6 separate regions of the Homo sapiens genome follow, and all the other regions are linked to region 5. Evidence: fine-mapped expression QTL. A gene starts in region 5. Each other region holds a variant in brackets. All regions are shown on one strand. Distances are from middle to middle.

Region 1 (5,496 bases), 60 kb before region 5:
GGTCAGGAGTTTGAGACCAGCCTGGCCAACACAGTGAAACCCCATCTCTATTAAAAATTTTTTTAAAAATTAGCCAGGCGTTGTGGTGGGTGCCTGTAATCCCAGCTACTCGGGAGGCTGAGGCAGGAGAATCGCTTGAACCCAGGAGGCAGAGGTTGAAAAAAAAAAAAAATGAACTTCCAACAGAAAGAAAATAAAATCAAATAAAAAGTGTAAGCTATAAGAGAAATGAAGAGCAAAGAAGGTAGTAAATGCACAAGTAATTGTAAACTACCATGAACTATATACATACAGTACAATAAAGTATTTTTAAGTAAAAAAAATAGTATATGGGGATGGTATATAAAGTTCAAGAGTACTAAAGTCCATATAATGACTAGGAGAATATAAAATTTTTCATTAAATTTATATTTTTACAAAAATGTATACTGTAATTTATAAAATAAAAAGAGATAGAGAATATTTAACTTCCCAATAGTAGATTGTAGGGAAGGGGGAAGAAAGGTATCCTAGAATTTATCCAAAGGAAGGCAAGAAAAATAAAACAAGGAAAACCAAATTCAAAAGCACAAAATAGGATGTTAGACATAAGCCTAAATAAATTAATTAAATGCAAAAAGTAGATATAAATAAAAAATAAGGACCATAAATCTAGATTGGAAAAAATCCTATTACATGTTGTTGACATGACACATCTGAAAACACAGGGAAAAAGTAAAAATATAAGAAAAAATATATACCAGGTAAATTCTAACGAAAAGAAACTTTGTACTTCATACTGACATCAGATCAAAAATAAAATAAAATAAAAAAGTACAAAGGGAAAAAAATTAAAGCATTAAAGATGTGGTTTATAGGAGGAAAAATAATTTACTCCTGCATGTACTTAATGACAGTCTTAAAATTTATTTTTTTTTTAATTTTTATTATTATTACTTTTGGTGTGTGTGGCAGGGTGTTGCTCTGTCGCCAGGCTGGTGAAACCTGGTCTCTATTAAAACCCCGTCTCTATTATGATTTTGCCATGTTGGCCAGGCTGGTCTCAAACTCTGACCTCAGGTGATCCACCCGCCTCGGCTTCCCAAAGTGCTGGGATCAAAGGTGTGAGCCACCGCGCCCAGCCAAATTTATTTTTTTAAACAAACTGACAGATCTATTAGAAATAGAAAAATCTACATTGATAATGAGGCATTTTTCATGTATTTCTCTTAATAACTGTTAGAACAAGGTGACAAAAGGGGAAAAAAAAAATCCAGTAAGGATACAAAAAATTTGAAGTAAAGGATTAACAATCCATACCTAATGAATAGGTATAGATATGAAAAGACAGCCTTTTCAGCATATGAGGAACATTTTTTTTAATATCATACATTGAGCTAGAAAACAAGTCCCAACCAATTACAAAGCATTAAAATCATACAGATAATCTCTATGGTCAACTATTTAATTAAAAAGTTCAATCTGTAATCTTAAACTTTCCCACAAAGAAATCTCCAAAACCAAGTGGTTTTACCATTAAGCTCTGCCAAATATTTAAGGAAGAAATCGTACCCGACCTTATTCAAACTCTCCTAGAGAATAAAAAAGGATAGAACTTTTTTCCCTGAGGCTGATATATCAAAATCTGGAACGCATTCTAAGAAAGGAAAACGAGAGGCCAGTTTTTGTCATAAATAGAGGTCCAAGTATCCTAAGCAAAATTTTGCAACTAACTTAAATGTGGTTACTAGGTATGAACTTTCTGAGTGTAAAAAATGATTATGGTTTTATCTGCCTTTAAACATAAAAGTACTAAATTAGTTTCTGTTAAACTAAAACCAGTCTAGAAATATAATAAATTTAAAATAAACTTTACTAAAAACATTCTACCATAAATAAAAGTTTAATATAGGATACAGTATTTAATTCACCAACATTAATATTGGCATTTACCTGTTGCTGTCTTACTGCGAAATTCTTCCAGTTTTGTCAAAGTTGCTGCAGTGAGCTGTGCTAGATGTACCTCTTTTGGAGGTCTGAAGAATTCCACTATACTATTCACTGTCCTCTGTTAAAATAAACATCATTAACACAAACTCAAAGCAAACTAAATTATATTAAAACTTAGTAATTTAAAAAAATGCTTACTGCATCATATATGATTTCTAAAGGTTCAGCTTCTATGATACACCTCTGAGAAACAGTTTCATCTAATGGATTTATCTCAAATGTAATTTGGAAAAGTGACATTGCATCATCCAATGAAGACAGGAGGCGGGGTTTTTCTGAATTATCTGGTAAGCCAGTAATATGAAATGAATCTATTTTAGTTTCAAATCTGCATTAAAAAAAAAAGAAAAAAGTCAGCGATCAGTAAAATTGTGAAGGATTTTAAAAATTGAAAATGATTTAAAAAATTAATGAAGACAACTTCACTTTGCATTTCTGACTCCAGTCCATTCCCATCAAAGAAGACATACAATGATTCCTCTAAATTGACATAGATTAATTCACAAAGAATCCTATTTGTGTTGACTTATATGTAAAAAAGTTATGATAAGCTAAAATTAAAATGACAGTAAATCTACAATGCTTAATGTAAAACTGAAAAGTTTTGCATATTTAACACAAGTCTATAAACATGTTTTCTTCTAAAAATAAAAATAAACATTTAAAGGCCAGACATGTGGCTCACACCCGTAATCCCAGCATTTTGGGAGGTCAAGACAGGTGGATAACTTGAGGTCAAGAGTTCGAGACCAAACTGGCCAACGTGGTGAAACCCTGTCTCAACTAAAAATACAAAAGTT[A/G]GCCAGGTGTGGGGGCATGAGCCTGTAGTCCCAGCTACTCGGGAGGCTGAGGCAGGAAAATCGCTTGAACCAGGGAGGTGGAGGTTGCAGTGAGCCGAGATCATGCCACTGCCCTCCAGCTTGGGTGACAGAGTGAGACTCTGTCTCAAAAAAATAAAACAATTTAATAAACATTTAAAAACCAAGGATGAGGCAGGACTTCGAGAATGACTATGTGAGGAGCTCAGCAACTCTTCTCCCCAGCAAACCAAACAGGGAAAGAACTGGTGAAAATTATAAAATCTCTGGAAATCAATCTAAGGGCATACAGCAAACAGAAAAACTTTTATTCAAAAAAATCTAGGCTGGGCTCGGTGGCTCACGCCTGTAATCCCAGCACTTTGGGAGGCTGAGGCAGGCGGATCACGAGGTCAAGAGATCGAGACCATCCTGGCCAACATGGTGAAACTCTGTCTTTACTAAAAATACAAAAATTAGCTGGGTGTGGTGGTACATGCCTGTAATCCCAGCTACTCGGGAGCCTGAGGCAGGAGAATCTCTGGAACTCAGGAGGTGGAGTGAGCTGAGATTGTGCCACTGCACTCCAGCCTGGCGACAGAGTGGCATTCCATCTCAAAACAAACAAAAAAATCTACTAAAACTTGATAAGAACAGGGAGAGCCTGTGGCATCTGAGCTATGATCATTTCCCACCTCTAATCCCCACACCACGTTACAGAAAATCTACATTAATATGGGCGCAGCTAAGAAGATATCGTCACATGGCATTCTCCTCTTTATGTCTGTCTGCAAATTGTCTTCTCTAGTCTGTCTTATTTTCTGAGTCTGTGTTCAAATTTCTCTTTCCTTTGAAGAGCACACATCATTCAATTAGAGCAAACACTAATACAGCATGAACTCATTTTAACTTGATTACATCTGCAAAGGCTATTTCCAAATAAGGCTATATTTGCAGGTACTGGGAATTAGAAATTGACAATGTTTTGGATGATACAATTCTACCCACTACAGTAGGTAAACAAATGGAAAACTACATCCTTCAACAATCAACAACAACTAACCATGGAGAGGGGGGACATCTAATTTCCACAGTTACCACATTATACCACTCAAAACATCAAGTTTTAAACAAAAATGTACAAAGCTTACACAGAAAAGGGAAGACTAGCATTATGTTCACTAAGCCATCATGTTAAATAAGCTTACACTCAAAGACTAAAGAAAACCAGGAAAATAACATTTGAGCACAGAATATAAATCGACAGAAATTATTAAAAAGAACCAAACAGAAATTTTGAAGGTGAAAAGTACAACAGCCAATATGAAAACTTCACTACAGATGTTCCTTGACTTATAATGGGGTTATGTCCCAATAAAATCATTGTAAGTTGAATATGTCATAAGTTTAAAATGCATTTGACACACCTAGCCTACCAAGCATCATAGCCTAGCCTAGCCTACCCTAAATGTACTCAGAATAGTTATATTAGTCTACGTTGGGAAAAATCATCTAACACAAGGCCTATTTTACAATAAAATGTTAAATAGCTTATGTAATTTATTCAGTACTGTACTGAAAAGTGAAAAACAAAGGTTGTATGGATACTCAAAGTAAGATTTCTACTAAATATGGATCACTTTCGCACCATTCTAAAATCAAAAAAATCATAAGCTGAACAATCATGATTTGGGAACCATCTGCAGAGAGGTTTCACAGAGGATCTAAGCAGCCCAAAGAAAGAATCATCAAACTTGAATACAGGACAACTGAAATTATTGAGTCTGTGGAGCATAAAGAATAATGAAGAACAATGAACAGTGCCTAAAGTGGGAGACCATCAAGTGGAACAACATATGCACTACGGGACTCTCCGAAGGACATGAGAAAAAGAAAAAGACATTAAAAATACTGGGAGAAATAATGGCCAAAAACTTCTCAAATTTGATAAAGAACACAAATTTATACATCCAAGAAGCTCAAAGACCTCCAATTAGGATAAACTCAGAGACTCACACAGCAACATATTATAATCCAACTGTCAAAAGCTAAAACAAGGAAAATCTTGAAAGCAGCAAGAGAGAAGCAACTCATCACATAACAAGATATGTAATAGATTAACAGCTAATTTCTCCTCAGAAACCATGCAGTCCAAAAGGCAGCAAGATCATGTACTTAAAGCACTAAATGAAAAAAAATGTCAACCAAGAAATCTATATATGACAAAACTATCCTTCTAAAATGAAGGAAAAATGAACACATTTCCAGATGAACAAAAACTGAGTCTGTCTGTCATTAGTAGACCTGCCCTACAAGAAAGGTTAAAGGAAGTCCTAAAGACTGCAATGACAGGATATTAGATAGTAATTTGCAGCCATACAAATAAATAAAGAACTGTTGTAATTGTAACTACATAAGCAAATAAGAAAGCCAGTAATATTGCATTTTTGGTTTTTAACTCCTCTTTTTAATTCCTCTATGATTTAAAGACAAACACATAAAAACAAATATAAACCTAGACTAATGAACACAAGTATGTAAAGCAGTAATTTGTGAAAATGATAACGTAAAGATGAAGAATGGAGCTGCATAAGAGTAGAGTTTTTATACACTATTAAAGTTAAGTTAGTGTCAATTCAAATTTGACTGTCTTAAATTTGGACTGTTAATTGTAATCCCTATATAGTAGCCCTCAACAAAATGACTAAAA
Region 2 (5,496 bases), 62 kb after region 5:
AAAAATATTTAATTGAAAAATATTATAGCTATATTTAAGGTTTATAACATGATAACTTGATATGTGTATACATTTTTGTAATTATTATCACAATCAAATTAATTAACACACCCTCACCCATGCTGTATATTAGGTTCCCAGAACCTGTTCATCTTATAACTGAAAGTTTGTACCCTTTGATCAACATCTTCCCATTTCCCCCACCACCTACTGCCTGGCAACCACTGTTGTACCCTCTGTTTCTGTGTTTGGTTTTTTTAGATTCAACATATAAGTGAGATCACACAGTATTTATCTTTCTGTGTCTGGCTTATTTCACTTAGCATAATGTCCTCTAGGTTTATCCCTGTTGTCACAAAAGGCAAGGCTTTCTTCTTTTTTTTGGCTAAATAATATTCCATTGTGTGTATATGCCACGTTTTCTTCATCCATTCATCCACTGATGAGTGCTTATGTTGTCTCCATATGCTGGCTACTATGAGTAATGTTGCAATGAACATGAGGATGCAGATGTCTCCTTGAGGTACTGACTTCCTTTCCTTTGGATATATACCCAGAAGTGGGGTTGCTGGATCATAAGGTAGTTCTATTTTTAATTTTTTGAGAAACTGCCATACCGTTTTCTATAATGGCTGTACCAATTTACATTCCTGCCAATAGTGTATAAGGGCTCTTTTTCTCTCCAGACCCTCTCCAACACTTATCTCTTTTATATTTGATACTAGCCATCCTAACAGGTGTGAGGTGATAACCTGTTATGGTTTTGATTTGCATTTCCCTGATGATTAGTGATGTCGAGTACCCTTTCATATACCTGTTGGCCGTTTGTATATCTTCTGTGGAAAAATGTCTATTCAAGTCATTTGACCATTTTTAAATTGTGTTATTTGGGTTTTTTTGCTATTGAATTGTGTGCTATCCTGATATATTTATTTTATTTTATTTTATTTTATTTTATTTTATTTTATTTAGATGGAGTTTTGCTCTTGTTGCCCAGGCTGGAATGCAATGGCATGATTTTGGCTCGCTGCATCCTCTGCCTCCTGGGTTCAAGTGATTCTCCTGCCTCAACCTCCCAAGTAGCTGGGATTACAGGCGCCCGCCACCACGACTGGTTAATTTTTGTATTTTTAGTAGAGACGGGGTTTCACCTTGTTGGTCAGGCTGGTCTGGAAGTCCTGACCTCAGGTGATCTGCCCGCCTTGGCCTCCCAAGTGTTGGGATTACAGGCATTAGCCACTGCACCCGGCCTCCTGATATATTTTTTTACATTAACCCCTTGTCAGATATATGGTTTTCAAATATTTTCTCCCATTTGGCAGGTTACCTTTTCATTTTGTTGATTGTTTCCTTTGCCGTGTAAACGCTTTTTAGGTTGATGTCAAATCTACTTTCAATTTTACAAGTTCAAAAATTTTCCCTGAGAGAGACTTAATTAATCATGACATTTAATGTGAGTGTTTGAAAATCATGGACATTTTAGACATGGATAGCCTATAACGATGAAGTTATAGATGCAAAGCACCTGCTTAATGATGAGCTGGTGTACCAGAACAAGCCTGTGGATACAGAACAGACGGGCATTTTTAGAGCACCACAGGTCCAAATTCTGCTGTTGCCAGTAAGTAATATCCTGAGTATTTCATGTGCAAAGGAACATAGGCATTTTTGTTGAGAGGATAGCTAGCTTAATTGACATCACATTGACCTGACACCAGGAATCAGTGTAATATGGGTTTGATAAAAGCAGAACTGCAAGTCAAACTGAATCTTACTTTTGCCTGTATTCAGTTTTAGTACTACATAAAAGAAAAAAAAAGGACCAGGCGTGGTGGCTCACTCCTGTAATCCCAGCACTTTGGGAGGCTGAGGCAGGCGGATCACCTGAGGTCAGGAATTTGAGACCAACCTGGCCAACATGGGGAAACCCTATTTCTACTAAAAATACAAAAATTAGCTAGGCATGGTGACTCAAGCATGTAATCCCAGCTACGTGGGAGGCTGAGGCAGGAGACTCGCTTGAACCCAGAAGGTGGAGGTTGCAGTGAGCAGAGACCATGCCACTGCACTCCAGCCTGAGAGACAGAGCAAGATTCCATCTCAAAAAAAAAAAAAAAAAAGAATTTATAAAAATATAACCTGAAATATTAAAAAGTCCAATAAAGCATTTAAAAAGAGTTCAAATAAATTGCTGTATCAGAAGACAGAAACATCAAAAAATATTGCTATATTTTCTCACACATATTGCTTATTTAATCCTGCTATTAATCACTTCTAACCGCCACTGCTATCTAGGCTTATTGTTGTTTTGTTTAAATAATAGCATTTATTTAACATAAAAGTAAGTAGTACAGAACATATAATTTCAAATAAATACCATTTTTCATATTTTATGTTAAAGTAATAACACATTTGAGTATACTTATTCATTACATATTAGATTATTACATTTGGGTTTTTTTTTT[A/T]AATTCAGTATAGTTGTGTCCACGTTGGCCCTCAAAAAAGTTGGCCACTCTAGTAGCCAGGGTTCTTAGCTGTCAGTTCAGGGCTCCCAAAGTGCATGTCCCAACAGACAAGGATTCAGGGGGAAGCTGGACCTCGTTTTAGGATCTCACCTTGCAAATCACACATCATCACTCCCACCGTATCCTATTCATTAGAAGCTACTAAGTGTGGCCCACAATGAATGGAAGAAGAATTAGACTCCACTTTTTGATGAGGGATATGTCACAGTATAGGTATACTTTAAAACTATTTCGAATAATGAAGAACACAGTGACTCCCATGCACTTTTGCTAGGCAAACTGGTATATACTTTTTGGAGAGGAACTCGGAACTATCAAAATAAAAAACAATTAGGAGTTTAGGGTACGGATATACTTGCAAAACAATGCCAAACACACTAATTAAAACTTCCCCCACCCCTCATTCTGAAAACGTTCAAAACTATAGAAACCTATTGTGGTGGAGTAGAGATGGTCATAAGTTATTTTACACTCTTCTCATTGAGATGTGGGGTCCCTTTTTTTTCTTGGATCTGAACTACTGTGACTTCTTGAGCAATCTAAAATGGCAGAAGATTTTAGATTGCTCTGAAATCTAACTCAGAACTCTGTGACAGTTCTGGACCTAGCTCTCAAGAAGACTGGCTTTTTTAGGGGGTTTCCTGAAGCCCTGAGCCTCCATGTTAAGTTCCACTACCCTGGTGAAGAGGCTGATGAGAGACCCCAAGACTACCCAGAGAGGGAAAGCTCAATCCAGCCATCTCCACCAAAGCACCAGGCATGTTTTGGATTCTCTGAACCAGTTGTCCATCAGCTGTGTGAATAGCCAGTCACCAAGTGACTGTAGGTAATGCCACTTAGAGCAGAACCATCATCCAGTGAAAGTCCTCCCAAATTCCTGATCCATAAAATGGTAAAATATAATGAGTTTTTTTTTAAGCCACTAACCTTTGGGGTAGTTTGGTATGCAGCAACATACAACCACAATGCCTCCATACCCTTATTCATCAGTTGTTAACATTGTGCCACATTTGTGCCTCTGCCCTCTCTGTTGTGCTGAATCATTTGAAAGTAACTTGCTGATATCATGATGCTTCACCTTTAAATTCTTCAGTATGTATTCTTCACAGTCGCAATGCCATTATCACTCCCAAGATACTTAAGATTGACACAATAATATTCTTTTTTTTTCTTTTTTTTTTATGAGACAGGATCTTGCTGTGTCACCCAGGCTGGAATGCAATGCTGCAATTATGGCTCACTACAGCCTCAACTGCCCAGGTTCAAGCGATCCTCCCATCTCCCATCCCAGCCTCTGGAGTAGCTAGGACCACAGGTGCATGCCATCGTTCCCAGATAATTTTTTTTTATAGAGGTGAGGTCTCACTATGTTGCCCAGGCTGGTCTCAAACTCCTGGGTTCAAGTAATCCTCCTCAGCTTCTCAAAGTGTTGAGATTACAGGTGTGAGCCACTGTGCCCAGCAGACACAATAATATTATCCAAAATGTAATTAATATTCAAATTCCACCAATTACTCAAATCATGTATTTGTATAGATTTGTTTTAAAATCCAGAGTACAATCAAGGATTATGCAGAGGATTATTTAGTTGCCATGTTTCTTCAAGCTTGTTGAAATCCAGTACAATAAGCCTCTGGTTTTTTTTTACTTTCATGTTACTGATATTTTTGAGGAGCTCAGAGCAGTTGTCTTGTAGAATGTCACATCATTTAGATTTGTTAAATTATATCCTCACAAAATTATATTAGGGTTAAGTATTTTTAATGTGTTTTTAACTTTTAATTTGTATGGACACATAATAGTTGTATTTAGTTACGGGGTACATATGGTATTTTGATACAATCATACAATGTGTAATGATCAAATACAGGTAATTGAGATATCCATCACCTCAAACATTTATCATTTCTTTGTGTTGGGAACATTCCAAATCTTCTCTTCTAGTTATTTTGAAGTATACAATAAATTATTGTAACTTTAATGACCCTACTGTGCTACTGAACACTAGATCTTATTCCTTCTGCCTAACTAATTTGTATAGGGTTAAGCATTTTTGGTAAGAGAATATTACATGGCTGACAACATAGGTACTTTCCATTGCTTCATAAGAGAGGCACATAGCGTCAGGTTGTCTCATTATTGATAATGTCAAGTTTGATCATTCGATTAAGGTAGTGTGCACAACATTTCTCTGTTGTGAAGACATACATTTTCTCTAAAATTAGTGAGGACCCTGTAGTCTTTCAGACTGTGTGGATATCCCATTTCAAGATGACCTTTCACCACATTGCTTTCAGAATTCGTAGATGATCCTTGCCTGACTCAATCATTATGTAGTGGTGGTATGGTGGTGGTTTGCTAATTCTGTATTTCTTTCTACTTTTGTTAGCTGGCACTTTCTCTAAAGAATTTCTTCACTGTCCATCTCTTCTTTTTGCTTATTATAATAAACTAAAAGATTCATTTTTAAACGACCGGCTTTGATGCTCAAATTGTCCCATATTTGGCCAATTGGTTCCTGTGTTCCCTTGAGTTTTAGTGCACTTCCTTCCTTTCAGGCTTAAGATATTCCAGGTTCCTTCTGTAATTTTCCCACCTCACACCTGGAACTAACCACAAAGAACCCTGGTTCCTTTTTGTGAGAAAGGTATGTAGAAGCCACATTCTGGGCTCTAGGTATGCTAATTGCTCCTGGGACTCAATTTATACTGATACTGCAATTCAAATCCAACATCACAGGGTCCCTCACATTCCTCTATTCCACAAGTGTATCTCCCCTTCCCCACAGCAAGGGACTTGGTTCACCAAAGAACCAATTCATTTACTCATTTGCTCTATCTTACATATACACAGAAAGTTCCAGAATTATTCCACTAAGACAACTAACAACCGAGTCAAGCTTCTTTGTTTGTTTTTTCTGCCCCTAAAATATTCTAAGGATTTTCAACCAGACTTCCATGTATAAAAGTTA
Region 3 (5,000 bases), 190 kb before region 5:
TATTCTTCTTTGAAAGCTTCTATATCTTTATGAAAAAGCTCAACCTATAAAAGGAACACAAAATATTAAAACTAAAGGGACCTACCTGCATGAGATATTTAAGCAAATAGAAGACACACTGCCAAAACTCTTCTATAAGATCCAGACTCAACATTGCTTATGATTGCCTCAGAAGGGAAAGTAACATCTCTATCTATAGGACAGTTCTGTCTGCCACTGACAAACCAACAAGCATTATCTTCTATATTTCTATCCAAACCATTAAAAGACACTAAGCTTTTCTCCATGTGACTATAAATCTTATCCCAAAATGACATTAATCCATACCATCAACACTCTCTTGGGTATATTTGTTTCTTTAAACATAATCATACAGTCAACTTGTATTTTGTAGTCTACTTGTAATTGCTTTAATGCATCCTACACAGATCAGTAATATAATAAAATAAAGAAGGTGTTGAAAACAATTTTGCATTAATTGATTGGTGGTTTCATTCTTGATATTCATCAATACTTCTCCTTTAAATGCTCAGACGGAAGTAACTTCTATGTGTTGAAAAATGAGCCCCAAGATTCACATTTTAACATATTCATAAAAACATAAGAAATGATAGCCTTATAAAAAGTATATTTAGAAATCAATTTCTGAAATGACAGTGGGAAGCTCTTCAAACCAGCACCCCAGCTAAACTGATAAAATTTAAACAACAACAACAACAAATTTAAGGCCTCTAGGAATGGTTTTAAGGTCATAAGCAAATGAAGAAACATCTATTTAAGAAAACCTAAAGAATTTGGTAAGAAAAGCGAATCCGTGGTGTTTTAACAAAGGCCATTCCCTCTGTCCCCTCTCCCAGACTAATGAGCCAGAATTCTACTCTAGACTAGTATACCCAAGAACACAGAGCTCCTTCTTGGCCCAGTCCTCAATTGGAGGACTTCCTTCCTGGGAAGAACAGGACGTCAGCATTTCTCATCCTGTTCCCAGCTACCTGCTGCTGAGGTTAAGTTATGGTTGAGTGCAACTGTGAGGCGGGGGCTTCCTTTATGGGTTTTTTTTTGTTTGTTTGTTTTTTTCGAGACGGAGTCTCGCTCTGGTCACCTAGGCTGGAGTGCAGTGGCGCGATCTCGGCTCACTGCAACTTGTGCCTCCTGGGTTCAAGCAATTCTCCTGCCTCAGCCTCCTGAGTAGCTGGGATTACAGGCACCTGCCAACACGCCTGGCTAATTTTTGTATTTTTAGTAGAGATGGGGTTTCACTATGTTGCCAGGGTGGTCTCGAACTCCTGACCTCAAGTGATCTACCCACCTTGGCCTCCCAAAGTGCTGGGATTACAGGCGTGAGCCACCGTACTTGGCAGGGCTTCCTTTCTCTGTCCAGCCTCTGTGCAGGGTAAAAAAGCTCTGCCTTGGGTACAGTACCACTGAGAATACTAGAGTTCTGATCACTCTTGCCCAGGCCTGTAATGTGGTGGTTCCATGCCAGCAAAGGCAAGCTGAGATCATCTCAGGCCACTGCCCCTCTTACCCCACCACACATAGTGCTCAGCTCCTAAACTGGGGTGTTACTCAAATAGAAGGGTGTCACAACTGTTCCCACCGCCAGCTTCAGAGGCCTGGTTTAGGGATTTTTGCTGATGGGGAAAGTAGGTTTTAAAACAGGTAACTATTAATCTCTTCCCAAAGGAACTAATTTCACTTATAACATATAGTGCAGTTCGAGCCTAAGGGCTCTCAGAAACAGCAGATGTGGTGAAAGACAACTAAAAGGAAAGTCATTGATTTACAGAAGATACTGGCTAACCTGTAGACCTAATAGTTTGCAGGAGAAAATCAGAGAAAGTGACAAATAGGAGTTTTCCTGAGGTCAGAACAAAAAAACACAGAAACATGGTGAAACCCTGTCTCTACTAAAATTACAAAAATTAGCTGGGCATTTTGGCACACGCCTGTAATCCCAGCTACTCGGGAGGGAGGCTGAAAAACGAGAATTGCACAAACCCACGAGGCGGAGGTTGTAGTGAGCTGAGATTGCTTTTGCAGCATTGCACTCCAGCCTGGGAGACAGAGCGAGCCTAGGTCTCAAAAAAAAAAAAAAATAAAAAAAAAAAAATTAATGTAATAAAACATATCAGTAGAACAAAACCCAAAAAGTGTACAATCATTTCCATAGATGCAGAAAAAGAATGACAAAATATATAATCATGATTAAAAACACTCAACCAACTAAGAAAAGAACTTCCTCAACCTGAAAAAGGATGTCTAGGAAAAACCCAGGGTCAATATCATACTCAAAGACTGAAAATTTACCCTCCAAGATCAGAGGCAAAAGAAGAATGTCTGCTCTTGGCACTTCTGTTTAATGTGTCACCAATTTCTAGACACAACAACTAGGGAAGAAGAAGAAACAAAGGCATTCAGATCAGAAAGAATGAAGTAAAACTACCTCTCCTCTCAGATGACACGATCTTATGTATA[G/C]AAATCCCAAAAGAATATACGGAACAACAAATAGAGCTAACAATTCAGTAGGGGTGCAAAATACAAGATCAGTATAAAAAAATCAACTGCATTTTTATACAGTAGCAATGAACAATCCAAAAATGGAATTAAAAAATCAATTTTATTCATAATACTATAAGAAGAATATAATACATAGGAATAAATTTAATGAAAAATGTGTAAAACTTACACTCTGAAAAACAACAAAACATTGTTAAAAAAAATTAAAAATCTACATAAATGGATAAACATGTCATGTGCAAGGACTGAAAGACCTAATACTGTTAGGATGGCAATACTTCCCAAATTGATTTACAGATTCAATGCAGTCTCTATCAGATGTCCAGCTGACTTCTTTGAAGAACCTGACAAGTTGATTCTAAAATTCATATGAAATTTCAAAGGACTCAGAACAGCCAAACCCATCTTGAAAAAGAAGGACAAAGTAGGAAGATACATATGTCCCAATTTCAAAACTTAATACAAAACAATAACTAAGACAGTGTGCAATGCACAAGGGCAGATGCACAGATCGACGGAATAAAATCACATGTGTGTTGTTAACTGATTTTCAACTAGGGTGTCAAGACCATTCAAAGAACAAATAGTCTTTTAAAGAAATGGTAATAGGACAACTGGATAGCAACATGCCAAAGAATAATTTGGATCCTTATACATCATATACAAAAATGAACTAAAAATTGATCAAAGACCTAATCATAAGAGCTAGATCTTTAAAATTCGTAAAACGTAAGATATTCATGACCTTGGATTTGGCTAAGGATTCTTAGAAATGACACCAAAAGCATGAGCAACAAAATAAAAAATAATTTGAACTTCATTAACTTTAACTTTTGATTTTCAATAGACAACATCAAGAAAGTGAAAAAGCAACACACAGAATGAGAGAAAATATTTGAAAATTATGTATCTGATAAGAGACCTGTATCGAGAATATGCAAATAACTTTTATAAGAAAAAAGACAAATAACTCATTAAATAATAAGCAAAGGATCTGAATGGACATTTCTTCACATAAGATATGCAAATTAACTACTTAACATATTAAAGGATAATCAACATATCAAAGATGCTCAACATCATTAGTCATCAGGTAATTACATGTCAAAACCACAATGACAAACTATTTCACATTCACCCATTATGATTGCTAGAATCAAAGACAGATAGTAACAAGTGTTGGGGATAATATGGAAAAATCAGAGCCCTCATATGCTCTGGTAAGAATGTAAAATGGTGGAGGCACTTTGCACAACTGCCTAACAGTCCCAAATGATTAAATATAAGGTTACTATGTGATTGAGCAATTCCACTTCTAATAAAATTTTATTTCTTTTGGCTATATACCTAGGATTGGAATTGCTTAATCACATGGTGATTAAGTTTAAATAGTTTAAGACTTTTAATAAAGTTTTTGTCCAATAAAAACTTGTACACCAGTATTCATTACATTATCCATAAAAGCCAAAATGTGTAAACAACCCAAACGTCCATTAACAGATATATGGATAAACAAAATGTGGCCCATCCATATAATGGAATATCACTTAACCATAAAAAGGAATGAAGTACTGATACATGCTACAACATAGATGCACCTTGAAAGCATTATTCTAAGTCAAAGAAGCCCTTCACAAAAGACTACACAGTGTATGATTCTATTTGTATGAAATATTCAGAATAGGCAAACCTAAAGACACAAAGTGTATCAGTGGCTGCACAGGCAGTTCCTTTTGGGGATGATGAAAATGTTCCGGAATTAGAGAGTGATGATGATTGTACAACTTTGTGAATACATTAAAAGTCATTGAACCCTATCTTTTAAATGGGTGAAATGTATGGTATGTGATCTATACCTCAATAGACTGTTACTAATTTGCTCTTTCTCCATCCATGAATCTATGAGGGCAAGTGAAAAACAGACTATATCTGACCCACTTTATAACTATGATTTTATGGTCTTCCAGTCACCCAGATGATACCACCTTTTAATTTTCCTATCCTTTCTCCCATTAAATATCCTGGACATACCCTAAATTTCTAAATTATTAAAGTGAAAGCAAAGCCAAAGTAATCCAGGAAAATAAAAGAGGAAAAAAGTGATGTGAACATGACAAATTATCCTTTTCTCCCTGCTATTCACCCCAAGCCTTTCCTCCTGTTTGCTAATTTTCTATCATCAGAAAATAAGATTTCTAAAAAGGTATGTACCACAAGAGAGTAATAAAATTTATTTAATTGTATTTTTAAAATGCAACAAAGTCATTTTAATACCTTTAAAAATTTATAATAATATCTTTTCCCTAATCCTTTCCATCAAATGTTATTATTTTAAGTCTTACCTCTGTATTTTCAGTCACCTCAGCTTCTGTCATAAGGTCTGTTAAAGCATAGATAAACCCAAGATCTAACCTGAGATCCATTTCTTGAATCAATACTTTGAAATACCTGTATTACAAAGTAGAAAACATTTTTTAAAA
Region 4 (5,496 bases), 34 kb before region 5:
CCTGGCTAATTTTTGTATTTTTAGTAGAGACAGGGTTTTAACATGTTGGCTATGCTGGTCTTGAACTCTTGACCTCAAGTGATCCACCCGCCTCGGCCTCCCAAAGTGCTGGGATTACAGGTGTGAGCCACCACGCCTAGCCATATTCATGCCAATATGTCTTTATCCTAAAAAATCCTATTATCTGCAAAAGAAAAATGTTTAAAAGCAATTTTAAAAACCAATTCAAACTTAGAACTTAGCTATGGCAAAATATTAAAGTAGTTAAACAACATCTCACCAAACTAATCTTATAAAAGAATGTTCTAGGAGCTATTTAGATTTGCAGGTATCATTGGGTGCAGTGGCTCACACCTGTAATCCCAACACTTTGGAAGGCTGAGTTGGGAGGATTGCTTGAGGCCAGGAGTTTGAGACAAATTTGGGCAACAAAAAGTGAGACCTTGTCTCTACAAAAAAATTTAAAAATTAGCTGGGCATGGTGGCGTGTGCCTATAGTCCTCGCTACTCAAGAGGCTGAGGCAGGAAGGATGATTGCTTGAGCCCAAGAGTTAGAAGCTGCAGTGAGCTATAATCGTGCCACTGCATTTCAGCCTGGGCAACAGAGCAAGACCTTGTCTCAAAAAAAAAAAAAAAAAGATATGGGGGTATGTATTCATGTTTGTGTATAGTTACACACATCTTCACCTGTATCTGTAAATTCTGCTAATAGATTGTGCCTAGGAAAAAATACTGACTACAGTATATTAGATAAATGACAATGAATTAAACCTCATGCAAAATATGATACCAACAAATACATACAGAAAAAATTTACTTACCAAGGAGTTATCATAATCACTAAGATAAAACATCTGAGACTTCACATTCCAATAGGCAAACAGGTTATCCAATCGGATTAACTGAAAATAAAATTTATTAGATGTCTCATTTTCTTTGAAGAATTTTTATCATACACTATTTTCAGAAGTCTCAAATAATTAAGTGAGCCATATCACAGAGTTAAACAAATAAGCAAAATTCACATACATCCTTATCTATATATTATCATTTGGCTTTCCAAAATTCTCTTAAGTCCATGAGTTGACAAACACAGTATTTATTTACCTTACGAACCAGTTTCTCAGTTTCATCATGTAAACATGGAACCCAGTATTGATCAGTTGTCTGAAAAGGAAAAAAAACAATGGCAGTAAAAAGGTCATTCCATTTGAAACAGCAGAGTAATAAATCATTATCTACCATACCCTAGACCAATGTCCCTTTCATGAAAATGCCTTTAAAGACATATCACTCCATCAAAAAATACTAACTGACCACAGTAAAGTGTCTGCTTTCAAGGAAGGAGCTCATTGCGGGTCAGAAAAGCAAACAAAGAAACAGGCAACTTCCAACAGGTAAGTGCCACAGCAGAAGTTAAATACTCATTTAACTTCTAAAACTCATAACTCATTTAACTTATAAAAGAATGTTCTAGGAGCTATTTAGATTTGCAGGTATCATTGGGTGCAGTGGCTCACACCTGTAATCCCAACACTTTGGAAGGCTGAGTTGGGAGGATTGCTTGAGGCCAGGAGTTTGAGACAAATTTGGGCAACAAAAAGTGAGACCTTGTCTCTACAAAAAAAATGCCCTCTCATTTCATTGAGAGGGCATGGCAGGAGCATCCAATTCAGGGGTGTGATGGATAAAGAGATGTTATATATAACCTAATATATAACATGTAACTAAAAATTATTGATTCTAAGGTCGACAGGGAATATGATTCACAACAGGCAGAGCCCAAAAGTACACAAATATATGGCACATTCAGGCAACTGAAGTAGCTCAGTATGCAGGAGAATATAATGCAAAACAGACAGAGAAAAAAAGTAAAACCAGGTATATTGCCTGGGGTCGGTTTAAAAAGGGTTTATAAGTTGTTTAAGGATAAAACTAAGAGCAATGAAAAGCCACTGAGAGGAATAAAGTGATCAGATCTTTATTTCAGAAAGATGGTTTTCGTTTCTATGTGGAGACGAACTGAATGGATAATTAGAATAGTAGCTCTCAAAGTTTAGCATGCATTAGGATCACCTAGAGCAGTGGTCCCCAACCTTTTTGGCACCAACGACCAGTTTCATAGGAGATAACTTTTCCATCAGGGGCACAACCTAGATCCCTGAGATGCGCAGTTCACAATAAGGTTCGCTAGGATCCTACGAGAATCGAATGCCACCTCTGATCTGACAGAGCTCAGGCGGTAATGCTCACTCCCAGGCCTTACCTCCTGTTCTGTGGCCCAGGAACCCTGACCTAGAGGGCTTTGTAAAACACAGATTGCTGCAACCAAATCCTAGAGTTTCTAACTGAACAGGTCTAGGCTGGCAGACAAGTTTCCAAAGGTGATGATTAGTAACTACTGTTATCACGGTTACCAAAGATCTTCACATTGCCCAATCCAATGGCTAATTCTCCATTCTTATTTTTCAACTTAATGAGAGTATTTGAGTAACTTTTTGGAGGGCATTTTTTCTTTTTTCGTTGCAGTGGGGCCACATTTTAAAAAGAAACTGTGGAGTCTCTCTGAGCCTGCTCTGGCTTGGGAGGCTGCCCAATTTAAAAATAATAATAAAATTAAAAAGAAATCTTACACAAAACCCAATAGATACAACAAATAAAATCATGCAATGAAATACACAGCAGTTAAACTGAATGAATTTTGTTACATGTGGTAACACAGATAAATGTCAACAACACTGGAAAGTGCAAAAAGGAACTCATAAAAGAGTCATATAAAACGCGTAAACTTTTATAATCCTACATTTTTAATAGATATATTATATAAAAGTTTTAAAATTTAGGATACTTATCTCTGGGGAAGGACGGGTGGGTGGAAGTAGAAAACAAAAGGGATTCAAACTTTATCCAAAACAGCTTATTCCTATAAAAATATTTAAGACTTTAAGCAAATAGGCTATTTTAATAGGCTCTTAATTTAACAGCCATCCATTCTGGAGGCAAGCATATG[T/G]TTCAAAATTCTCTACATGTTCTTATATTTTTAAAATTCCTCAATTTCAAAAATTAAACAGGAAAACACTATGCTACAATATTAATAATGATATTGAGAAAAACTGAAGATTTTTGTTTTTCAAGGCTTATCGAAGTTTCAGATATGAACATTTATTACTTGTATTTGGTACTTACTCATTACAAACTTGGAAATGGATTTCTTAAAGTAAGCAAAAGCATCTAACATCATAATTACCAATAATAATAGGACCTCATATTTCTGAATTTGATTTTCAACCATTTTTTGAAATGTGAATCTACATACCCTCGATTCCAATCCAATGAAGACCCTTTGTGCACCCGTTCTACATAGACACCTATTTCTGATGCTGGCATATACAAATAGTAGCAGTTTAATAGACTATATTGCACATTAAATATGGTTAAGATTCTTTTATAAACAAAATACCTGCATGCTCAGATTTTGAAGGGAAATACCAAATGACAGCGGTTTGTCCCGATTTGTGATCTAAAGAGGAAAGAAAGTAAAATTTATTCAGATTTTTAGTAGTTGGATAAAATCCACTTTATAGAAAAAACTGTCAATGTGCAGCGGCTCCCATCTGTAATCCCAGCACTCTGGAAGGCCAAGGCAGGAGGACTGCTTGAGCTCTGGAGACCAGCCTGGGTAACACAGTGAGATCCTGCCTCTACAAAAAAAAATGTTAAGAAAATTAGCCAGGCCTGGTGGGGTGCAACTGTAGTCCCAGCTACTGCAGGGTGGGTGGGTGGGGGTGAGGTGGGAGGATCACTTGAGCAAGGAATGTCAAGGTTGCAATGAGTCATGATCGGGCAACTGCACTCCAGCCTGGCGACAGTGTGAGGCCTTGTCTTGGGAAGGGGAGGCAAGGGGAGGGGAGGGGAGAGAAGAGGAGAAGAGAAAGAAAGAGAGAAAGAGAAAGAGAGAGAGAGAGAGAGAGAGAGGGAGGTGGGGGGAGGAAGGGAGGGAGGGATAACTTTTTGGGAAGTAACTTATTTCAAACATTCAGAAACATTTTATTACTTTCCAGAAAAACTTTCATTCCTATATTTTTCCTAAAACAAATTAGAATACTAATTATTAATGTATTCGTGTTACACAGGAATATTATACTGCATGTTTTCCAGTTTACAAAAAAAATTATTAAAAAAGACTAACAAAATAGGATTATAAAGCAAATAATTATCTGGTTAAGAGAAAACAAATGACCTATTCAGGATCAAGGAATTATTTAAGGCTAGCTCCACTAATTGCTAGACCAGTACTCCATCCAGGAGGTAAATATAGCATACTTTAAAGTATTTTAAAAATACATAACTGCTAAATTCATAATTCCCAAGGCATTTCCTTCATGATCTAATGTCTGAACATTTTGGGAAAGTGTAAAATCAAGCACTCAACACTAAGGACTGCAAATTACAACTATAATTATAGAAAAGAAGGATCACATCATCTTTAGCTCTGTAACCTTTTGGGATTTAACAGATTGGCCATTAAAAAGTAGGTGTCATTAAATAGTAAAATAACTTACATATAAATATAAAAACAAATATCACATATTAAAATACTTACATCATCTTCATAACGAATATGGATACTGGAAATTTTCACCTGAAGATTTTTTATGATCTGTGTAACTAATTTTTCTGCAAAAGTGTCCTGTTTTTCCGGCAGATGTTGTTCTACAATTGCAAATATTCCTTTTTTAAAATTGAATGAAAAATATACTCTATAAATATCCACATACTGAAGTAACATGCTTACGTTGCCTTGCTGAAATATACATATATATGTAAATAGAACACTAATAGCTTGCTTTCCAAAAGTCTTTCAAAAGCAAGTAAACATTTTTCAAAAGCTAGTTTATTGTGCCATGAGACTAAAGCAGACCATGTAGAATTTACTGGCATTAAATTTTATAATTTCTGTTAACCTATGCCTGAGTACAAAAATATATTTAAAAATGAAGATTATTGGGTAAGAATTACAATAGACTTAAATGAGAAAATCCACTAACAGCAGCAAAGCAGAAATCTCTCTCAAAATTAGTGATACCACCATTAAGTTGCCTGTGTATAGATGTGTAAAACAGTTGAATATCCTCCTCCCCCAGTAAATACAAAATAGGAAATAAGATCTTCTTTCTTCTTTTGAACAAGGATGAAAGAAGTTCATCAACTATTTCATGTTCAGAAAACAGCATTAACTATCTCAAGTTCCATTACTTTCCAAAGAAATAGAAAGAATCAAGAATTGGAGGGGCAAGGTGGCTCACACCTGTAATCCCAGCACTCTGGGAGGCCAAGGTGGGCAGATCATCTGAGGTCAGGAGTTTTAGACCAACCTGGCCACTATGGCGAAACCCCGTCTCTATTAAAAATATAAAAATTAGGCAGGTATGGTGGTCCATGCCTGTAGTCCCAGCTACTTGGGAGGCTGAGGCAGGAGAATCGTTTGAACCAGAG
Region 5 (5,496 bases):
CTAAAACTACAAAACTTCCTTAAGAAAACACAGGAGAACATCTTTGACTTTGGGTTGGGAAAAGATTTCTTAGATATGAATACCAAAAGCCATGATTCATAAAAGAAATGTTTTATAAACTGGGCTTTTCCCAAAATCAAAAATGTATGCTCTGCAAAAGACAAAATGGGAAAAGACTGAGAAAGTATTTTCAAATTACATATCTGATGAAGAAATTGTATCCTTAATATTTAAAGAACTCTCAAAACTCAACCATAAGAAAACAAACACTCTGGAAAAAGAGTTTGGCTGTTCCTCAAAAGGTTACACAAAGTCAGCATATGACCCAGCAATTCCACTTCTAGGTATATATCCAAGAGAATTTAAAACATACATCCACAAAAAAACTTGTACATGAATGTTCAGTGGCATTATTCATAATATCCAAAAGGTGGATGTTTAGGAATAATCTAAACATCCAGCAACTGGTGAGTATAGATAAATAAATTGTGGTCTATGAATATAATGGAATATTATTCAACCCTAAGAGCAAATGAAATAGTCATACATCCTTCAACATGGAGGAACCTTGAAAATACATTAGGTTAAAGAAGCCAGAAACAAAAGGCCACATATCATATAATTCCATTTAAATGAAATGTCCAGAATTACCAAATCCATAAAGACAGAAAGATTAGTGGTTGCCAGAGGTGGAGTAGTGAGAAGGGAGGAAATTGGGAGTCACTCCTAATGGACATACGATTTAATTTTGGGGTGCTGAAATATTCCGGAATGAGAGAGTGGTGATGGTTGTACAATTTTGTGACTATACTAAAAAACACTGAATTGTACATTTTAAAAGAGTGAAATTTATGGTATATGAAATAAATCTCAAAAAAAAAAAAAAAACGTACAACCCAATTTAAAACCACTCTTAGGTATTTATCCAAGAGAAATAACAATTATGTTCACACAAACACCCGTACGTGAATGTTTATGACGGCTTTATTTATAACCTCCAAAAACTGAAATATTCTTCAACCAGCAAACAGATAAATACTTACAGTCAGGCGGGCGCAGTGGCTCACGCCTGTAATCCCAGCACTTTGGGAGGCAGAGGCAGGCGGATTACTTGAGGTCAGGAGTTTGAGACCAGCCTGGCCAACATTGCAAAACCCCCTCTCTACTAAAAATTAGCCGGGCGTGGTGGCGGGGTGAGATCAACTGCAAAGGAGCAGCTGAGAGAATTCGGGAGGCTTGATGAACCTTTTATGTGCCATTATTGTGGTGGTGCATACATGCCTCTTAGCATTTGTCAAGACAGAACTGTATCACAAGAGTGAATTTTACTGCATGTAAATTTTAAACAAATAAATAAGTTGATTAATCACACTCTAGACAAACCTCCACCCTGAATGTGGAAGCAAGACTCCACTACAGATCAAAGTTCACCTCAAGTATTCTTAAGGCTTCCTTCTGAGGTACATGGGAGACAAATTTTATTTTCACTTTGCAACTAAGAAGCAGCATAAACAGACTGCAAGTTTCTTGTACTAATCAAACAGGCTGAGCAGCTATCACTATATCCCTAGCTTTTGTAGTCCACTCACTCTCCATCATGATACTAGGTCCCCACGGTAGTAACATTCTTTAAAATCAAACTAAACTACCTGTTTACATTATCTCATAAACGAGAAGAGTCAAGGTAAGTATTTTAGAAGAAGACTGGAAGTGTGTGCACAGACAAGAATAAATTACTTTAAATATATATTTAAACACACACACTTCACACACAAAATTAACCCTCACTTTGGCCTGGGAAATTCATTTCACAAAGGAGTCTAATTTCTAGCGGGTGTTTAAAATAAACAAGCGCATAATGCAAAAACAGATGGAAACACTAAAAATGAGGCTCTCACTAAGGCAGAATACCACACTAAACGGACACAAGGAAAGCTCGGTCCTTCACCACCTAGGCAGCGTAGGGCCCTGTTCAGCCCGGTCTTTTGCAGGTCTGAGACGTTGCACCGCACGCCCTGGTTTTTCTTTAAAATTCGGCAATTCACTCTGACCCACATATCCTAAAGTCTTGAAAATGTTACACATTCCTAGGTCAGGCTGTTAACTGCAACCACACAAGCAACTGTTTGAGTTACTTTGCACTTGAGTTTCCTTTTTGTTATCCGCCGAACCCAGGCGAGAGAGAGCCGGCGTCCGGGTCCTAGGGCCGGAAGGGGGAGAGCAGAAAGCACCACGGGTGAAGCCAGGAATTGAGGCTGGGGAAGCAAGGAAGCGGGCGTCCCCGGTCACAGCGCCCTGCCTTCACGTGCGAGGCAGCATGCAACACGCGGGGGATTTCTGGGGCCTTCGTCATAAACCCAGGGGGGCAAAGGACAGGGATGGGACCCAGCCCAGGAAGGCGTCGTCTCGCCTCCTCGCCCCGCGCGGCTAAAGCCGGACCGTGCGGGGCCAGGGGTAGAGAACGGCCCCTCGCCGGGACTTGAACGCCAGACCCACGGAGCCCACGGCAAGTCCGCTCCGCTCGGAAAATATAGACCTTTTCATCCCGCACTCATGACCCTCTCCTTTCCCCCAAAATATAAACAACTCGAGGGCGGAGGCCAGGGAACTGCCGCCCGGCTTTACGTAACTTGACCCACAGGCGGGCGGCGGCAGGTGGCTGCACCCGGCGAGCAAGGTGCTCGAAGCCCCGAGAACGCAGGACGCCGCTCGGGCAGCGAGACGGCCGGGAAGCACGAGAGGCCGGGGAGCGGCGGCGGCGGCCTCCTTACCTTTCCAGATGCCCAGAGAGAGCTGGGACGTGTCCAAGTCCACCACATAGTCCCCCAAGAACCGGTTCAACACGTCCACGACCACCGACTCGAAAACCATGTTCCTCAGCCGTGGTGGGCACGGCAGCCGGCCCGTGCGCTCCTCCTCCCGCCGCCTTCCCCACGCCCCTCCCTCGAGGTAATTCGGTTCACCGGCTCCGGGGCGGCTTCAGCTGCGGCGCCCCCGCTGGCCCAACGCGCAGCCCTAGCGAGCCCAGCGAGAGACGGAGGCGGTCGCTCTCACGACGCGTGCGCAAGTCTGCGCGCGGCTGGAGGCGGAGCGCGGCGCAGACCTGGGCGCGCAGCCCTGAGAGGGAGGAAAGGCGGCTGCGCGGCCGCGGCTCTGGAGGGTGCCCTTTTCGCGCCGAGCCCGGCTCCTCTTTCCTGTCGGCCCCGCCTCCTCCCCATCGCCTGGCAACGGGACACCGGTCTGGAGCTACCGGATTTTTTCCGACCCCGCCCCCTCCTGCAGATCAGCGTCCCCAGCGGCCCCCCAGGGCGGGGCGGTTACGCCCGACGGGAACGCCCCTCCCCCTAGAAGGTGGTGGCCGCTTCCACGCGTATGACAGGGCTCGCCCCTGAGTAAGGGTGGGCGGATCCCAGCCCCGTCGCCAGAAGCTTCAAGGGGGCTGTCCCAGGGAGCATCTCCCCTCATCATTACAGGGTGGGAGGGTCCAGCCAGCCTGGGTGTCTTGGTGCCTGTAACCTCCCCGCCTGGTCCTCCGACCGCCTGGCTCTCAGGAGGAGTTAACTTCCTGCTGCGAGTCGAGGATGGAGTTACATAGTCCCTGCCCTGCATCTGAGATGAGCACCCATTTTTGGTCAAGTCATTTATACGGAGCTGTCTTTCATTCCAAAGAGTAACACGCTTCCCTGCAGATAAGAGTTGGAGTCAGCCGGTCTGGAAACTGCTGAACACCCTCCAAGAAATACTGGGAGTGCTGGACCCTTGACCCCTATGCCTCCACCGAACCACTGACCTAAAATAAATTACAATTACAGATCTTTCGACCTGTTTGGTCTTACTTAGAAGTAATCCCAAAGGCCTGAGGTCACAGAGATGCTAAATGTGAGGTTTAGAGAACTGTAATTAATCATCTGCAGGACCGAAAAAGTGTACATTGAGCGTTTTCTCTTTACACGTTAAATGAATAATGATGGATTTCTATTAATTCCTGTGTCATTTTACTACTTTTTGTGCATAGTCACCGACTTTTCAAAATTAAATGTTTAGGGTGTGCCTTTGCAAGTAGAATGCCTGACAAAAACTGTAAGTTTTTACCTGAGTTTATGAATGTTTTTCATATAATTTTATATTTGAAGGACCTTTATGAGGTCTCCAACCTCCTAGTCTTAAATATAATGAAGCTGAAGTGTTAGGGATGTGTGCAAGGTCATACAACCAATGTTCTGTGGAAGAACTGGAACTTGGCCCTTCTGATTGGCTACCACCCCACCTGCTTCTCTCTCATTCAGCTAACAGTCTGCTTCAGAATACCTGCACGGAGAAACGAATAGAGGCTAAAATGCCTAGGAAGGGGAAGAGCTCTACATAATGAGGCATTTTGCCATTGCACTATTAATAAGAAGCCAGATACACAGTAGCTGCAAAATTCCGCTGTTATATCTAGCGCTGCAAATTCAAAGTTACAAGAATTTCCAGAACTCCAAAAATCCATCTTAAGTATCTTGCAAACGTTTTCATATTAGTTTTCTACGATCTAGGAAAATTTTGTGGAAGTGAGGAAGGGGAAGGGATGTTGCTGAAAAGTTAGAGGTATAAGCATAAAGCAATGAAAAAAAATTCTGCTGAGGAAGAGTTAGAAATAAGTGGATGCATATTGTAACCGAATTCTTATCTAGTGTTAGATGTATATGAACATGCTTTGTAAATACTAAAAGACAACATTTTGCATTCAGTCTTTGCATTGCTTAATCCATCTAAGGAAGTTTGTAAGCAAAAATATATTAACATCATCATGTAAAAGGTATGCTCATTAAACCATTAAACCAAATTTCTGTTGTACCTTGAAAAATAAGCCCAATGACTACCATAAAAACTCGAGTTTCAAATTAGGAAGTATGTCAGTGTATGTTATTCTTTCTCTAGATCACAATTAAAATGCTATACTTCATTGTTTGATCAAATGGAAAAACAAAAGAGGGGGAGAGCATCTGAATGACCCCAAACTGCAATATCATCTAACTTTACAATAAATCTCTAACTTTGCAAGTAGGACTTGCAGTTTTATGTATACCTTCCATGCCACAGCTCTTCGTCTTTAAAGTTTTGGTGTACTGGTAGTAATCTTGGAATTTTTTTTTCTCCTAATCTTAATTCTTTTGTCCACAAGTAAATGTCATTGGTGGGCTGCTTGTCCTTATCATTCCCCATGGGCATTGTGGTAGCAGGCTAGATGGCCAGATAACAAAGCTGTTGAAGCAGACCACAAAGCTGTTGAAGCAGAAGATGTCCTGGAGGAACAAGTGTAGAAGATGGCCGTTTTATAGGTATGGGACTTTTACTGATCTAACTTCACAGAGCCCTGTGCTCCATCTGTTTATGCTTTAAAAATTTTAAACAATAAAAAGTTATTTGGAGCCTGGCATGGTAGCACATGCCTGTAGTCCCAGCTACTCCAAGGGTGAGAGGATCCCTTGAGCCCAGGAGTTTGGGGCTGCAGTA
Region 6 (5,496 bases), 200 kb before region 5:
TAACTGCAACATCCCAAGGTACTTGGTGAATCCCTACAAATATTTCAGCTAATACTGTGTAAATGCTTGCTGAAAAACAAGTAATGGCTGACAAGTGCTGTGGTTTTTAGTCATTTAAATAGCTCTTTTAGTGATTAATGATGAGACTGACCTATTAAAAATAAATATGTATCTTTAAAAGTACACAGTCAAAAGTCATGTTTTTACATCTCAAAGTTTAAAGCTTCAGAAAACAATGAGAAGCTTCACTAAAATCAAATTATCAACCATGAGAAATTATTGGTATCTCATGGCTTCCTTGTGGGTATCATAACGTGCTCACTTATAATGAGGATATATTCCTAAACTCTCCTCAACACTCATCCTTACTTCGTACTATATTTGATTTTTAGTCTAGTAAAATGTTAGTAACTTGTTAAATGCGTTCTAACAAGGGAAGGCAGGTATTGGGTAGAAATACATGTTTTGACTGTATCAGCCATGGGTGACTTCTGCAAATTTACTATCTTCCAAAGAACGATACACTGTCATTGTAGAGACTGCACAATCTGTCCATTAGAGCACAACCTCTTAATAGATTACCAGTTCTATCCCAATATACAATGATTTTGATGCTTCAAAAACATTTTAAATACAGTATAAAATCACTTAACTAAATATTGCATATTAACTCTATGGTTACATTTTTGTATATTAGAAGCCTCAGAGAAAGAGTTAGAAGTATATTTTATGCAATACTATATGCCCTGCAATAGGTAAAATACTGAAGTTTAAATCTTTACTCTGATCACATTAAATATCACAATATTTAAAATATTAAAGCCATAAAGGAAGCTTCATATTCCAACAGTTTATTGCTACCATGAGTATCTGCAAGCCTACATAACATAATGATTCCTTGTTTGTTTTCAAACAAATGATTTAATTTAGTATTCCACCTCTAAACCACAGAAACAACATGACACTGGTATAGCCTATATATGATTACTAGTTACCTACAGCATAATCCAGGTTTTAAAAAGTCGAATTTACCAAGTAAGAAAGTTGTCTAAGCAGATTCTAACTTCAAACTGTCTATTGTTCCAGATGCTACTTTGTATTATTAAAAGATACTGGTTTGCATGTGAACTGCTTATCAAATCCCACAAGTTTTATAAAGACTACACTAGAATAAAGCAGGAAGAGGGTCATGGCCATTTAAGCATTTTCAAAGGCAAAGCACAAGAATCCAAGAGTAATTCACAATAGCAGTGTTCCTGAGTTTTGCTTTTCCTTCTTCATGTGTAATTGGATATAAGGATTATATATCTGGTATAAAAGCTACCAGTGGTTTAATAACCCCACAACAGAAATGGTTTAATTGGTTAAGTAAGTACCACCAATGACGAGGATACATAAGGTACAAAGGCTTCCAACAAATCTAGCAAATCCAGTGCAGAACTAAGAACACCCTATAAAAAAACCAGATTCATTAAAATTCCTATTAAAAGTTACCAATACAAAAGGTTTTCTTTGTATTCAAAATACTGAAACAGCTGTACGTAGTTTGTAAATTTTAAGACTAAAATCTACTGTTGGCTTTCACTTGCAAAGTCATGCATTAACTTTTCATATCAAACTTTTTGATGCCTGTAAAAAAGAAAAAAAAATCTTATAGTAAATAAATGTACTTTAAAATCTAAGTAAATATAAGAAACTTATAAGTGGAATTAAGCAAAATAGATAAAAGCCCAAATAATTTAATATATATTAAATGGCTACTTAAAAAAAATCTAACTTGACTAAATTAATCTTAATTTATAAGATAGCTCTTAATTTACCTGTAACATTTGATTTCCAGTCCCATCCCTCAACCTGTACGGTCTGATAACTCCATCTTCATTGAAGAACCGAGGAGGTCGCAGACTCTCCACTTCAGAAGTCTCTGTAGCTCTAGAGGAAAAAAAATATAACTTTATTTTAAAAATTATTCAAAAACTTGTAAATAAACTATAAAATGCAATTACTAAAAACAATCTTATTTCAGATTAAAAATATTACAACATTCTCTAATTTTAAATTGTTTTTGTAACATAAACAGTGTAAGTTCTCTAGAAAAATACAGAACTATAGAGAAGTTTAAGTCTCTAGAACTTTCTTTGTGATAATAATCACAATATTAGCAATTGTTGCTTTTTCTTTTCCTATTACGTT[G/A]TCTAGTTTCTTTAGTATAATGCTATAAACAAAAAGGGATTGCAAGCATCCTTGTCTCATTCCTGACCCTACGGAAAGCTTCTAAGAGTTTTCTGTGAAGTATAGTTATCAGCAACTTTTTTTTTTTAAAGCACCCCTTAACAAGTCAAGAAAGTTCATTGCTACTTTTAGTTTACCAACAGTTCTTTTTTGTTACTGTTTTTGAAAATCTTAAATAGGCAATGAATTTTAAATAAGAATTTCTTTTCTGGCATTGTTTTGATCACATGGTATATTTTCCTTAATCTATTAATGTTATAAATCACATTATATAGTTTTCTAATATTCAAATACTCTCACAGTCCTCACATTCTTACTGGGCTTGATGTGTATTACTGTAAACACATACCCCAATCCTGGGCAGCATACACTGCTCTACAAAAAAATAAAAAAACTAGTCAGACATGGTGGTATGCAGCAGAAGTCCCAGACACTCAGAAGGCTGAGGTGGGAGGATAGTTTGAGCCCCATGCCACTGCACTCCAATCAGGATGCCAGAGTGAGACCCTGTCTAAAAACAAACAAAAAACCAAAAAACACATACCACATACGGCTAAATTGTGTATGGTAGTATTATATTTAACATTTTTGCTTATTTGGTCATAAGTGACCACTCAATTTGTTCACTCAACAAGTATCACATATTCAACAAATATTTATTAAGAGGTCCCCAACCCATGGGACTTGAACCAGTACCGGTCCATAGCCTGTTAGGAACTGAGTCGTGCAGCAGGAGGTGAGTAGTGGCAAGCAAGTTTCACTGCCTGAGCTCCACCTCCTGTCATATCAGCAGCGGCATCAGATTCTCATAAGAAGGCGAACCCTATTGTCAACTGCACATGCAAGGGATCTAGGTAGCACACTCCTTATGAGAATATAACTAAAGCCTGATGATCTGAGGTGGAACAGTTCCATCCTGAAATTATCCCTCCTGTCTGGTCTGTGGAAAAATTGTCTTCCATGAAACCAGACCTTGATGCCTAAAAGGCTGGGGACCGCTAACATAATGTATACACATGCATGGGCATATACATATGAATAAATTCTCCAACTGAAAACAGAATAGGGCCGGGTGTGGTGGCTCATGTCTGTAATCCCAGCACTTTGGGAGCCCGAGGCGGGCGGATCATGAGGTCAGGAGTTCGAGATCAGCCTGGCCAATATGGTGAAACCCTGTCTCTACTAAAAATACAAAAATTAGCCGGGCGTGGTGGCATGTGCATGTAGTCCCAGTACTTGGGAGGCTGAGGCAGAAGAATCACTTGAACCTGGGAGGTGGAGGTTGCAGTGAGCCGAGATCATGCCACTGCACTCCAGCCTGGGCGACACAGCGAGACTCCATCTCAAAAAATAAATACATAAGTAAAAAAATAAAAACAGAATAGATAAAAAAAATATGATCTAACAATATACTATCCACAGGAGACCTGATTTAGAGTCAAAGACACAAACTGGTTGCAACTAAAAAGGAGAAAATATATGCAAAGTGAACAGTAACTAAAAGAAAGCTAAAGTGGCCATGCTAATGTCAGAAAAAAACAGCCTTTAAAAAAATTCTTATTAGACACAAAGAAGGGCATTTTATAAGGAAAAAAGGGTCAATCCATCAAAAAGATAAAAAATTATAAACATATAAGCAGCTAATAAAAGAAGCCCCAAATACACAAAACAAAAACTAAGAATTTAAAAGACAAAAAGGCAATACCACCATAATAGTTGAAGATTTCAGCAACCTACTTTCAAAAATGGATACCAACTAGATAAAAGATCAGCAAGGAAAAAAGAGAACTTGAATAACACTATAATCCACTAGACCCAACAGATGTCTATAGAACGTTCAAACCAACAACAACAGAATATATATTCTTCTCAAGTGCAACGGAACATTATTCAGTATTAGCTATCTATTAGGTCATAAAACATGTCTCAATAATATAAAATTACTGTTTGCTTCTTGGCCTTTTGGCTAACATTGAATGTAAATATAAAACTACTGAAAATAGGCCAGGCGTGGTGGCTCATGCCTGTAATCCCAGCACTTTGCGAGGCCGAGGTGGTCAGATCACTTGAGGTCAGGAGTTCAAGACAAGCCTGGCCAACATGGTGAAACCCCATCTCTACTAAAAATACAAAAATGGCCGGGCGTGGTGGCTCATTCCTGCAATCCCAGCACTTCGGGAGGCCAAGGCGGGCAGATCACCTGAGGTCGGAAGTTCGAGATCAGCCTGACCAACATGGAGAAACCCTGTCTCTACTAAAAATACAAAATTAGCCGGGTGTGGTGGCACATGCCTGTAATCCCAGTTACTAGGGAGGCTGAGGCAGGAGAATAGCTTGAACTTGGGAGGCGGAGGTTGCGGTGAGCTGAGATAGCGCCATTGCACTCCAGCCTGGGCAACAAGAGTGAAACTCTGTCTCAAAAAAAAAAAAAAAAAATTAGCTGGGTATGGTGGTGTGTGCCTGTAATCCCAGCTACTCAGGAGGCTGAGGCAGGGGAATCTCTTGAACCTGGGAGGCAGAGGTTGCAGTGAGCCAAAATCACGCCACTGCTCCAGCCTGGGTGACAAGAGTGAGACTCTATCTCACAAAAAAAAAAAAAAAAAAAAAAAAGGACTGAAAATATACAAGTATGATACCTGACCACATGGAAGAAAACTAGAAATGTGTAAATAAGAGAAATTTATGAAATTTACAAGTGTGTGGAAATTAAAACATAGAAGCATAAATAACAAAATGTCAAAGAAAAAAATCACAAAAGAAATTCACTACTTTGAAACAAATAAAAGCAAAAATACAACACACCAAAACTTATAAGATGCAGCAAAGACAGTGCTCAGAGGGAAATTTATAGATGTGAATGTCTACATTAAAAAAGAAGGTCTGAAATCAATAATATAACTTCACAAGTTGAGAAAGTAGAAAAAGCAAACTAATCCCAAAGCTAGCAGAAGGAAGAAAATAATAAAAATTAGAGCAGAGATAAAAGAAATAGAGAATAGAAAAAATAGAATCAATGAAACTAAAAACTGGTTCTTTGAAAAGGACAACAAAAATGACACGCCATCACTAAACTGACCAAGAAAAAAAAGAAGACCCAAATTATGAATAACAGGAATTAAAGAGGGAACACTACTACCAATCTTATGGAAACAAAAAATAATTATAAGGGAATACTAGGAATAAATACTATATAAGGGAAAAATAATTATATGAGAATACTAGTAAATATTTACTATGATCAATAAATATATATCAACAAATTAG

Evidence for each region. PIP is the estimated chance that this variant, and not a neighbour inherited with it, causes the effect.
Region 1: its variant is fine-mapped to the expression of VPS13A in tibial nerve (GTEx, PIP 0.98).
Region 2: its variant is fine-mapped to the expression of VPS13A in whole blood (TOPMed, PIP 0.97).
Region 3: its variant is fine-mapped to the expression of VPS13A in whole blood (TOPMed, PIP above 0.99).
Region 4: its variant is fine-mapped to the expression of VPS13A in whole blood (TOPMed, PIP above 0.99).
Region 6: its variant is fine-mapped to the expression of VPS13A in nasal epithelium (TOPMed, PIP 0.96).

Annotation. Positions count from the first base shown.
Region 1 is chr9:77,234,823-77,240,318 of GRCh38, reverse strand. It overlaps VPS13A (vacuolar protein sorting 13 homolog A), which reads right to left. Exons shown (of 72, transcript NM_033305.3): 18 at 2,128-2,317; 19 at 1,933-2,047. Among named protein-coding and RNA genes, the nearest start is that of VPS13A-AS1, 60 kb to the right of the region's middle. The variant A/G (reference allele first, on the strand shown) is at 2,790.
Region 2 is chr9:77,112,823-77,118,318 of GRCh38, reverse strand. No RefSeq gene overlaps it. Among named protein-coding and RNA genes, the nearest start is that of VPS13A, 62 kb to the left of the region's middle. The variant A/T (reference allele first, on the strand shown) is at 2,466.
Region 3 is chr9:77,360,504-77,365,503 of GRCh38, reverse strand. VPS13A (vacuolar protein sorting 13 homolog A) reads right to left here. Exons shown (of 72, transcript NM_033305.3): 59 at 4,863-4,968; 60 at 1-44. Among named protein-coding and RNA genes, the nearest start is that of GNA14-AS1, 85 kb to the left of the region's middle. The variant G/C (reference allele first, on the strand shown) is at 2,479.
Region 4 is chr9:77,208,640-77,214,135 of GRCh38, reverse strand. It overlaps VPS13A (vacuolar protein sorting 13 homolog A), which reads right to left. Exons shown (of 72, transcript NM_033305.3): 6 at 4,604-4,713; 7 at 3,461-3,520; 8 at 1,108-1,167; 9 at 822-902. Among named protein-coding and RNA genes, the nearest start is that of VPS13A-AS1, 33 kb to the right of the region's middle. The variant T/G (reference allele first, on the strand shown) is at 3,011.
Region 5 is chr9:77,175,080-77,180,575 of GRCh38, reverse strand. It overlaps VPS13A (vacuolar protein sorting 13 homolog A), which reads right to left and starts at 3,042. Exons shown (of 72, transcript NM_033305.3): 1 at 2,772-3,042. The coding sequence starts at 2,871. It overlaps VPS13A-AS1 (VPS13A antisense RNA 1), which reads left to right and starts at 2,659. Exons shown (of 2, transcript NR_026668.2): 1 at 2,659-2,949; 2 at 3,670-3,820. RefSeq lists silencers at 1,877-2,046, 3,029-3,323, 3,085-3,414 and an enhancer at 3,029-3,323.
Region 6 is chr9:77,378,412-77,383,907 of GRCh38, reverse strand. It overlaps VPS13A (vacuolar protein sorting 13 homolog A), which reads right to left. Exons shown (of 72, transcript NM_033305.3): 68 at 1,821-1,932. Among named protein-coding and RNA genes, the nearest start is that of GNA14-AS1, 66 kb to the left of the region's middle. The variant G/A (reference allele first, on the strand shown) is at 2,194.